2 separate regions of the Homo sapiens genome follow, and region 2 is linked to region 1. Evidence: fine-mapped expression QTL. A gene starts in region 1. The other region holds a variant in brackets. All regions are shown on one strand. Distances are between the middles of the regions.

Region 1 (4,403 bases):
TCTGATTTCTGTACATCATTTCCTTTTTTTTTTTTTGTCTACAAATCCTCCACCACATGGCTGTGCTGGAGTCTCTCCAAATCTGCTGTGATTCTGGGGGCTGCCCGATTTACGAATCAAAAGTTCATTGCTCAATTAAACTCCTTTAAATTTAATTTGGCTAAAGTTTTTCTTTTAATAGAAGCCAGGGCTGAAGATAAAGATTAGGGAATGATTCACAAATCTCTTTATAACTCTGGGGAGGGCAGACAGGAAGAGACTAGAATAACAGAAAAGAGTCAAACTCAAAATCTGAGGGATTGCCTATATTTAATTACGGACAGAGTGAGAGAAACTAGTGGAAAATTCTGAAAGTAAGTGATCAGATCGTATAAAGAGAATTAAAAGAGAGGTGCAGAAAAAAAGTTTTAAAAGCTTCAGCACCTTAAAGCAGGACAAATACTGAGATGAAGTAATTGAATTTGATCAGTAAGAGATAAGAGGATATTTTACACTGTTATCCAGTTTGGTAGACACCGGCCACTTGTGGCTACTTAAGTTTAATTGAAACTAAAATTTAAACATTCAAAATTCATTTCCTTAGTCATACTAGCCACATTTGAAATGCTCATAAGCCACACGTTAACTAGTGTCTATTATGTTGGACAGCTCAAACTATAAAATATTTCCATCATTGCAGAAAGCTCTATGGGGATGTGTTTTTGAAAGCATCCAGTAGTGCAGAAGCAGAATTGCAATGGGGAGATTTCCTGTGTGTCCTCTTATACTCATGTAGCTTGCAATGTCTGGTGGATTTGACCTCTCCAGCTTGCACTTGCCTCCTCATTTTTACTATTAAGTTTTGGTCTCACCCTTTCTTTCCTAGACTATTGCAATGCTTGCCTATCTGCCTCTTCTGTTCTTTCATGTTTGTAACCTATTCTCCACACAAATCATTCCGCCACTCAACAGCACTCTTTTTTCACTGCCACTTTTCCTGGTCAGCCAGCTATTTTATTGTTAGTCCACTGTGGTGCACTGCAGATAGGGGCCATTGTATCAACAACATGGGAAGGTGATTCCTCTTCCCCTACACCTTTCCCTCCCTGCACTCACATAGCTCATAAACCAATGCAGGTAGAAGGATTATGGTACATTTATATAACAAATAACAGAGCAGGAACAACTGCTAATCATCACCCTCTCCTTTGTCTTTTACTTATGATCTGTTACCAGCTCTTTTTTCTTTCCCTCTGCCACTACTGGGCTTGTTAATATTTCGTTACTTTTCACTTCATCAGTCATCTTCTAGTCTCTCCTCCCACTTGCCACAAGAAGCTCTGGTCATATCATTTCATTTCTCTAACCTTCCTCCCTGCAACTCCCACTCTGCAGGCCTACAGAATTCTGTCTTGCTTCCTTCACCATTCTTCCACACATCTTTCTATTACTCTGTGGTACTCACCATTCCCCTGGCACATTCATGCATATTCACTTCCTTCCCTCCCGCCCATGCAATGCCATCTTTCAGACCCCAGGATCCTCTCCCATATCTCTGTGAACCCTGAATATCTGAGACAGGTCTCAGACAATTTAGGAAATTTATTTTGCCAAAGTTAAGGACGCCCGCCCGTGACACAGCCTCAGGAGGTCCTGATGATATGTGTCCAGGGTGGTCGGGGCACAGCTTGGTTTTATACATTTTAGGGAGACATGAGGCATCAATCAATATATGTAAGATGAACATTGGTTCCGTCCAGAAAGGAGGGACAAATTGAAGCAGAGGCGGGCCAACTCAAAGTGAGGAGGGGGCTTCCAGGTCGCACGTATTACAGCTGAGAGACAAATGGTTGCATTCTTTTGAGTTTCTGATGAGCCTTTCCAAAGGAGGCAATCAGATATGCATTTATCTCAGTGAGCAGAGGGATGACTCAGAGGGATGACTTTGAATAGAATGGGAGGCAGGTTTGCCCAAGCAGTTCCTAGCTTGACTTTTCCCTTTAGCTTAGTGATTTTGTGGCACCAAGATTTATTTTCCTTTCTCACCTCTAATAAGATTCAGGAGGAAATATGCACGAAGAATAGAAGGTGCCAGGGGACATTGCTGAAAGACCAAAGGGCCCAAACCTGTTTGACCTTGTCCATTTGGAGAGCAACAGATAAAAATATAGCTGCACTACCAATTATTACTACTCCCCCCAAAAAGACAACTGAATTTTCAGTGTAACAGACAGCACTTTACAAAGACACTTGGTCGAAAAAGGGTCACTCCCGGGCTCTGGGAGGCGAAGAGGACTGTGGGAGCGCTGTTCGTTGTCCCGCGGGCTCATGGGAAATGTAGTGCAGTTTTCTCCAACATGGCCGCGCCCAGGGGAGATGGCGTGCAAGTATCCGCTGCGGTGTTCTGGTGCTAGAGTGGAGAGGCTGGCAAAGAAGAAGGCACACGCATGGTGAGAATCCGGCCTGAGCCGAAGCGGAGGTGTGTGGCACTTCTTACTGGCGGGCATACGGGCAGCAAATCACCGCTTCCTCTTTTCAGCCTCTTCCGGTCTTCTCTATCCGCCTTGCCAGCTAGGGCTGAGAACCTAGGGAAAGGGGATGGATCCCAGAGGCGCCCTTGGTGCAGTGTGGGCAGTAGGGTGTCTGCGTTGGGTGGTTCTCTCAGTGTTTAGGGTGCATGTGTTTGTGTTTGGTTCGGGCGCTCACGTGGTGCCTGTGTCAATCTTCTGTTTTCTTTGGGGTTGGAGAGGACGGTTGCAACATGGGGCGTGTTAGTGTGGCGCTTCTGGGGCTTTTCTGACCGGTGACAATCGGTCTGATTGCATCGATGCAAAGGCAGTGCTGATGATCTGATCCCTTGCGCAGCTGAGTCTTCCTGTGCTCTTATTTGAGCAATCCCTGCGACTCCTGGACCTCTGGTAGCGTCAGCCTGTTATTTTGATAGATTTCATTGAATATTTATTGTCAGTTGTATGTCAGGCACCAAGTCTGTGCCCTTAAATAGATGACAGTTTTCTGGCCGAAGCCCAACACAAACAGGCAATTATAATACCATGTGAGAACTCTAGAGATAGAGGTCCATGCTAGGTGTTAATGAAAACGTTGAAGAAGGCCACCAAACTCAGAATTCTGGAGGAGGGGAGGTTTAGGAGGTAAGACAGCAAAGTCGATTTAGGTTTATTCGACAAATGGTTATTGAGTGGCTGCTAGGTGCTAAATCCTGTTTAAGTGCTGGGTGCTACAGGGTGAACAATAGAGACAAAATCTCTACTTCATGGAGTGAGTGTTCTTTATTCAGTTATGGGGAAAGACAGAATAAACAAATTAATGAGAGTGTAAGAAAATATGTAGTAAGTGTTATTCAAAGAGTTAAAACGGGGTGCCGTGACAAGTGATGGGGTGAATTTTTTTCTAAAAATTTTAAATCTTTATTTTCTTTTTAAATAGATGATGCAGTTTAAATAGCTACTAACTTCAAAAGTCATGAAAGAAGAAAGCTCCCTTTCATTCCTTTACTCATCGATCCATTTTCCTTCCCTGGAGGCAACCCATATCACCAATTTCTTGTGTGTCCTAAAGATTTATATGTAAACTCTGTATACCAGTGCCGTACGTTAAAATTGGGCCTCGTTTGATAGGAAGTTAGATTCTTTCTAATCTTTGCTATTAATTATTAGGTTGTGCAAAAGTAATCATGGTTTTTGCATTTTTTTAAACATATAAGTATAGGAACATTTGTCTATACTGCTTGTTTCATAATAGGCTCTCTATTATTCAAGGAGGGCATGATGTACATACTACTATTACCACGTAGGGCAATATCTAGTAGGATATATTGGCTTTAAACTCACTAACAAGCAAGTAGCAGAGCATGCATAATCTCCAAACTTTCATTATCCCACAGAGAGTACGCTTAGGCTGGAGCTGGCTGAACCGGACTCAGCATGGCTAGTATCATAGTTAATAGTGACTTCACTCCAGTAATGTCACAGGGAGCATCCAAGTATCTGTGCATTAGTGGAAACTCTGGCCAGGGAAGTGGCTTTGTCAGAAGGGGGCACCTCCAGACCTCAGCAGCTGGTATCAGCCTATCCTTGTTGAGATGACTCAGATATGTTGGGCCAGCACATTGCCTAGCCACTGGAATGGTGGAAAACTGAGCCTCAAAGGCCATTTAGTGTCTTTCTTCACGTGCAATAATATTGCATGACTGAGGGAGAGAAAAAGGAAAGGGATGACAAAAATGTGGTTATGAGGCTCCACCTGCTGGTGCTGGACTCTTAGTGGCAGACATTTTAAAAAGATATATTTAGCATCGTTTCTTTCTCATTCCTTCTTTGCAGTGTTTGCTCATGTGAAATATTAAAAATTCTGTAGTGCAGTCATCCCTTGTTCTCCATGACATACTGCAAAGTTGCTGTTCC
Region 2 (4,403 bases), 42 kb after region 1:
GTTTTTAATACTTTTACGTTTAATATATTACTGATAATGAATTTAAATTTACCATCTATTTGTTTCCTCTTGGCATCATCTGTTCTTTTTTGTTTTTTTTAGAATTGGTGTTAATTAAATATTTATTTTATTTTCCCATGGAATAATTTGTTGTACATTCTTTTAATATTATTGTCATGAAGATAATTTCCTTAAATACCTTTATTTCTTTGTTTTTCCACAATGTCTAACAATTCAGGGAATCCAATAGATATTTGTAATAAATTCTTCTAGATTTTCTCTATTCACTTAACATTTTTAAAGGCCTGAAATATTTTTATTAATACAATGTTAAGTAAATTTTTTTGACTATTGTTTTTAGAATCACGTGCAGAAAATTTGATACTGTTCAAGCATCTGAGAGTCTTAAAAGTGGAATTATCACCAGTGATGTTGGAGACTTAACTTTAAGCAAGAGGGGACTACGAACATCATTTACATTTAGGAAAGTGAGGCAAACACCTTGTAACTGTAGTAAGTATATACTCTTATCTCGTCTGTAAAATGGAGTCAGTTTAATATAAAAGTCCTTTAAGGTCCTGTCAACACCTAGGAGAGCTTTTTCTGAATCTCTCTAATGGCATTTCCTGTATTTTGCCTTGTATTGCACTTTCATGCACTTTTCTTAACGACCCTCATTAGAGTTTACATTCTTTGAAGGCAAGGGTCTGCATCTTCTCATCTTTATTTTTTCCAAACTTAGTACTTGAGTTGGGTGCCCAATAAATGTTTTACTTATTGAAGTAACAGTTAAGAGTGCTACAATTGAAGGGCAATAAAATATTACTTGTTTAAAAACGGGTATTGTTGGGAATGGTTTGTCAAGTTTCTAAATTATATCTTATTAATCCAACAGGGAAGTTGGAGATGACAAATTGTTCTATAGTACATAACTCTAGGGAGATAAGCGACAGTTTATGTTTTAGTCAATTTGAAAACTCAGAAGGGAATAAAAACTGCTCAAAAACTTGTCAAGAGGATGCTATTTTGAATCGTCTGTACAAGTACATCATGTTCTGGATTTCTTTGACTCAATTAACAGACACCTCTTTCATTTTGTAAATAATATTTTGTAATGATAGTAATAATAAAATCCTTTTTATATCTTGGGGGTTTTAATTATGGGTGGTATCTACCAACAGCTTTTGGATTTAGTCATAATCTTGAAAACATTTAATTAAAAACTCTTACTATATCTACAAAATGTTATGCTTTTAGAAAACTTGAAATTTCTATATTTTATATCCTGATGTTACTGAAGCTTAAAAGAGCTTTTTATTTTACTAAAAGTGTCCTTGAAGCCTTAAAATATCAAATTTTAAAAGTTAAATTTAAAATGTTTATTATTTGATGAATATTGAACATTGCAGATAGTGAGTTACATGGTATAGAAAAATAAAGCATGGCTCCTGTTCTTAAGGAACTTAAAGTGTAGTTGGAGAGACAAGCTAGTTTTCTTATGCAAATGTTTATCATGGGCATTTATTAAATGTAAGAAGCTGTTATTGGGGATTCAGTTTACAGATTTTTTTTTAAGATGAATAATAATTGTGGCTGGCACAGTGGCTCATGCCTGTAATCCCAGCACTTTGGGAGGCTGAGGCAAGAGAATTGCTTGAGGCCAGGAGTTCAAAATCAGCTTGGACAACATAGGAAGACCCCCTGTCTGCAAAAAAATAAAATCAAAATTTAGACAGGCATGGTGGTGTGTGCCTGTAGTCCTAGTTACTAGGAAAGCTGAGGCGGGAGGATTGTGTGAGCCTAGGAGTTTGAGGCTGCAGTGAGCTATGATCGCGCCACTTGCACTGTGGCCTGGGTGACAGAGCAAGACCCTGTCTCAAAACGAAAAAACAGCAACAGAAAACCCCCCAAATTATAAATGTTTATCATGTACAACATGATGTTTTAAAATACATATATATTGTGGAATGGCTCAATTGAGCTAATTAACATGTATTATTACCTCACATACTTATACTTTTTTGTGATGAGAACACTTAAAAATTTATTCTCGGCTGGGTGCGGTGGCTCACACCTGTAATCCCAGCACTTTGGGAGGCCAAGGTGGGCAGATTATCTGAGGTCAGGAGTTC[G/A]AGACCAGCCTGGCCAACATGGTGAAACCTGTCTCTACCAAAAATACAAAAATTGGCCAGGCATGGTGGCACACGCCTGTAATCCCAGCTACTCGGGAGGCTGAGGCAGGAGAATCACTTGAACCCAGGAGGCGGAGGTTGCAGTGAGCCGATATCATGCCACTGCACTCTAGCCTGGCCAACAGAGTGAGACTCTGTCTCAAAAAAAAAAAAAAAAAAGAATTTATTCTCATAGTGATTTTCAAGAATACAATATATTATTATTAACTATAGTCACATGTTTTACACTAGATCCCTGGGACTTATTCTATCTCACTGAAATTTTGTATCCTTTCATTAGCATCTCCCCGGCTCCCACCCCAACTGCTCCAGCCCCTGGTAACCACCATTCTACTACTCTCTATTCTGTGAGATCAGCTTTTTTTTAGATTCCATATATGAGTGAGATTGTATAGTATTTGCCTTCTCTGTCTGGCTTATTTCACTTAACATAATATCCTCTAAGTTTATCCATGTTGTAAATGGCAAGATTTCCTTCTGTTTGTGGCTGAATAGTATTCTGTTGTGTATATGTACCATATTTTCTTTTTCCATTCATTCACTGATAGGCACTTTGATTCCATGTCTTGGCTGTTGTGAATAGTGTTGCAGTAAACATGTGAGTGCAGATGTCTTTCTGACGTACTAATTTCATTTTCTTTGGATATATACCCCATACTGGGATTACTGGTTTATAAGATAGTACTTATTTTTAATTTTTTTTTTTTTTTTGAGCAAGGCAGAGAAGGGTTTTATTGAGTGACAGAACAGCTCTTGATACGAGAGGGGATTGAACCTGAAGTGGGTTCTGTGTGAGAGGGGGCCCGAAGGCAGGTAGTCCCCTGTTTCTAAGTTTTTGAAGAACCTCTGTACTGTTTTTCATAATGACCATTCTAATTTACATTCCCACCAACAGTGTGCAAGAGCTCCCTTCTCTTCTTATCCACACCAACACTAGGTATTTTTTTGTCTTTTTTTAAAGACCGTCTTGCTCTGTCACCTGTGCTGGAGTGCAATAGCACGATCATAGCTCACTGCAGCCTTGGCCCCCCAGACTCAAGCAGTCCTCAGTAGACTTATTAGGGAAGAACTTTTTCTTTTAACGGATAAATCAGAGTCTGTCTACCCACCAAATTTGCATTGATTTTTTTTTTTCATTTAAGAAAACTTGATACCTTATGAGTTATTCTGATAAAAAGGAAAGGTGTGTATTGCTTTTTCATTAAGGTTACCCGTTGGTCTGTGATAGCCAGAGGAAAGAGACTCCCCCCTCATTTCCAGAGAGTGATAAAGAAGCCTCACGGCTGGAGCAAGAGTACGTCCATCAGGTTTATGAAGAGATTGCTGGGCACTTCAGCAGCACAAGACATACCCCTTGGCCGCACATTGTGGAGTTTTTGAAGGCTTTGCCAAGTGGTTCAATAGTGGCTGATATTGGATGTGGTAATGGAAAGTATCTTGGCATCAATAAGGAGTTATATATGGCAAGTAATGTTGCTTTTGACTTTCTTTTTGCTTAATTTGCAGTGGTTATCATCATCTTTCTTCCTCATGATATAATCCTGTTTTTTTAGATCATTGCCAGAAAGTTATAACCAACAGATTGAAAATTAATGATTTTTTTTATTCTTTCTTATTCCTCTAGGAATTTATGGGCACACCATCATTATATAATTTTTTTTCTCCCTTTAGATTTTGCTTTCTACCATATTATTTTATCAGTAAAACTATCTTATAGTTATAAAACTCTTTACAGATTAGAAAGGATTTTTATAGAAATCATTTTTTGGCTTGGATCCCCCTAAGTATGAAGAAGATAAAGCTGATATTTTCATCCATCTTTTGTAAATGAAGAAATTGGGGCTCACAGTGATCATATTAATTTCCTGATGTCATATAATTAGGGGACATAACTGGAACTTGAACCTATATCTTCTACTCCAAACTTTATTCATAGTAGAAAAAAATTTTCTATTTATTGGTATCTTACTGTTGAGGAAAGGAAGTCTCAAACAGATTAAAAACTTGACCAAGGTTACAGTGCTAGACCCAGAATTTGAACCCATTTCTGTCTGATTCCAGAATGTCTGTTTTCAGTTACTATTTTTTTCTATGAGCCATTTTTTTTCTGCTGTGCTAAGAAGTAGGATATTCTTGTTTTAGTGTATTGTTGTAAGTAATCATTTTTTAACATTGCTCTGTGAGGACTGGAGCTTCCGTTTCTCTAGATTA

Direction of the effects. Alleles are on the strand shown, and positions count from the first base shown. SD is a standard deviation of normalised expression in the study named.
With allele A in place of G in region 2, the expression in thyroid of the gene that starts at base 2,324 in region 1 is higher (small effect, 0.28 SD a copy in GTEx).

Evidence for each region. PIP is the estimated chance that this variant, and not a neighbour inherited with it, causes the effect.
Region 2: its variant is the best candidate, but not a certain one, in a credible set for the expression of ALKBH8 in thyroid (GTEx, PIP 0.54).

Annotation. Positions count from the first base shown.
Region 1 is chr11:107,563,656-107,568,058 of GRCh38, reverse strand. It overlaps ALKBH8 (alkB homolog 8, tRNA methyltransferase), which reads left to right and starts at 2,324. Exons shown (of 12, transcript NM_138775.3): 1 at 2,324-2,458. RefSeq lists enhancers at 24-103, 2,032-2,091, 1,938-2,454, 2,162-2,651, 2,455-2,973.
Region 2 is chr11:107,521,551-107,525,953 of GRCh38, reverse strand. ALKBH8 (alkB homolog 8, tRNA methyltransferase) reads left to right here. Exons shown (of 12, transcript NM_138775.3): 9 at 362-513; 10 at 3,399-3,655. Among named protein-coding and RNA genes, the nearest start is that of ALKBH8, 42 kb to the left of the region's middle. The variant G/A (reference allele first, on the strand shown) is at 2,133.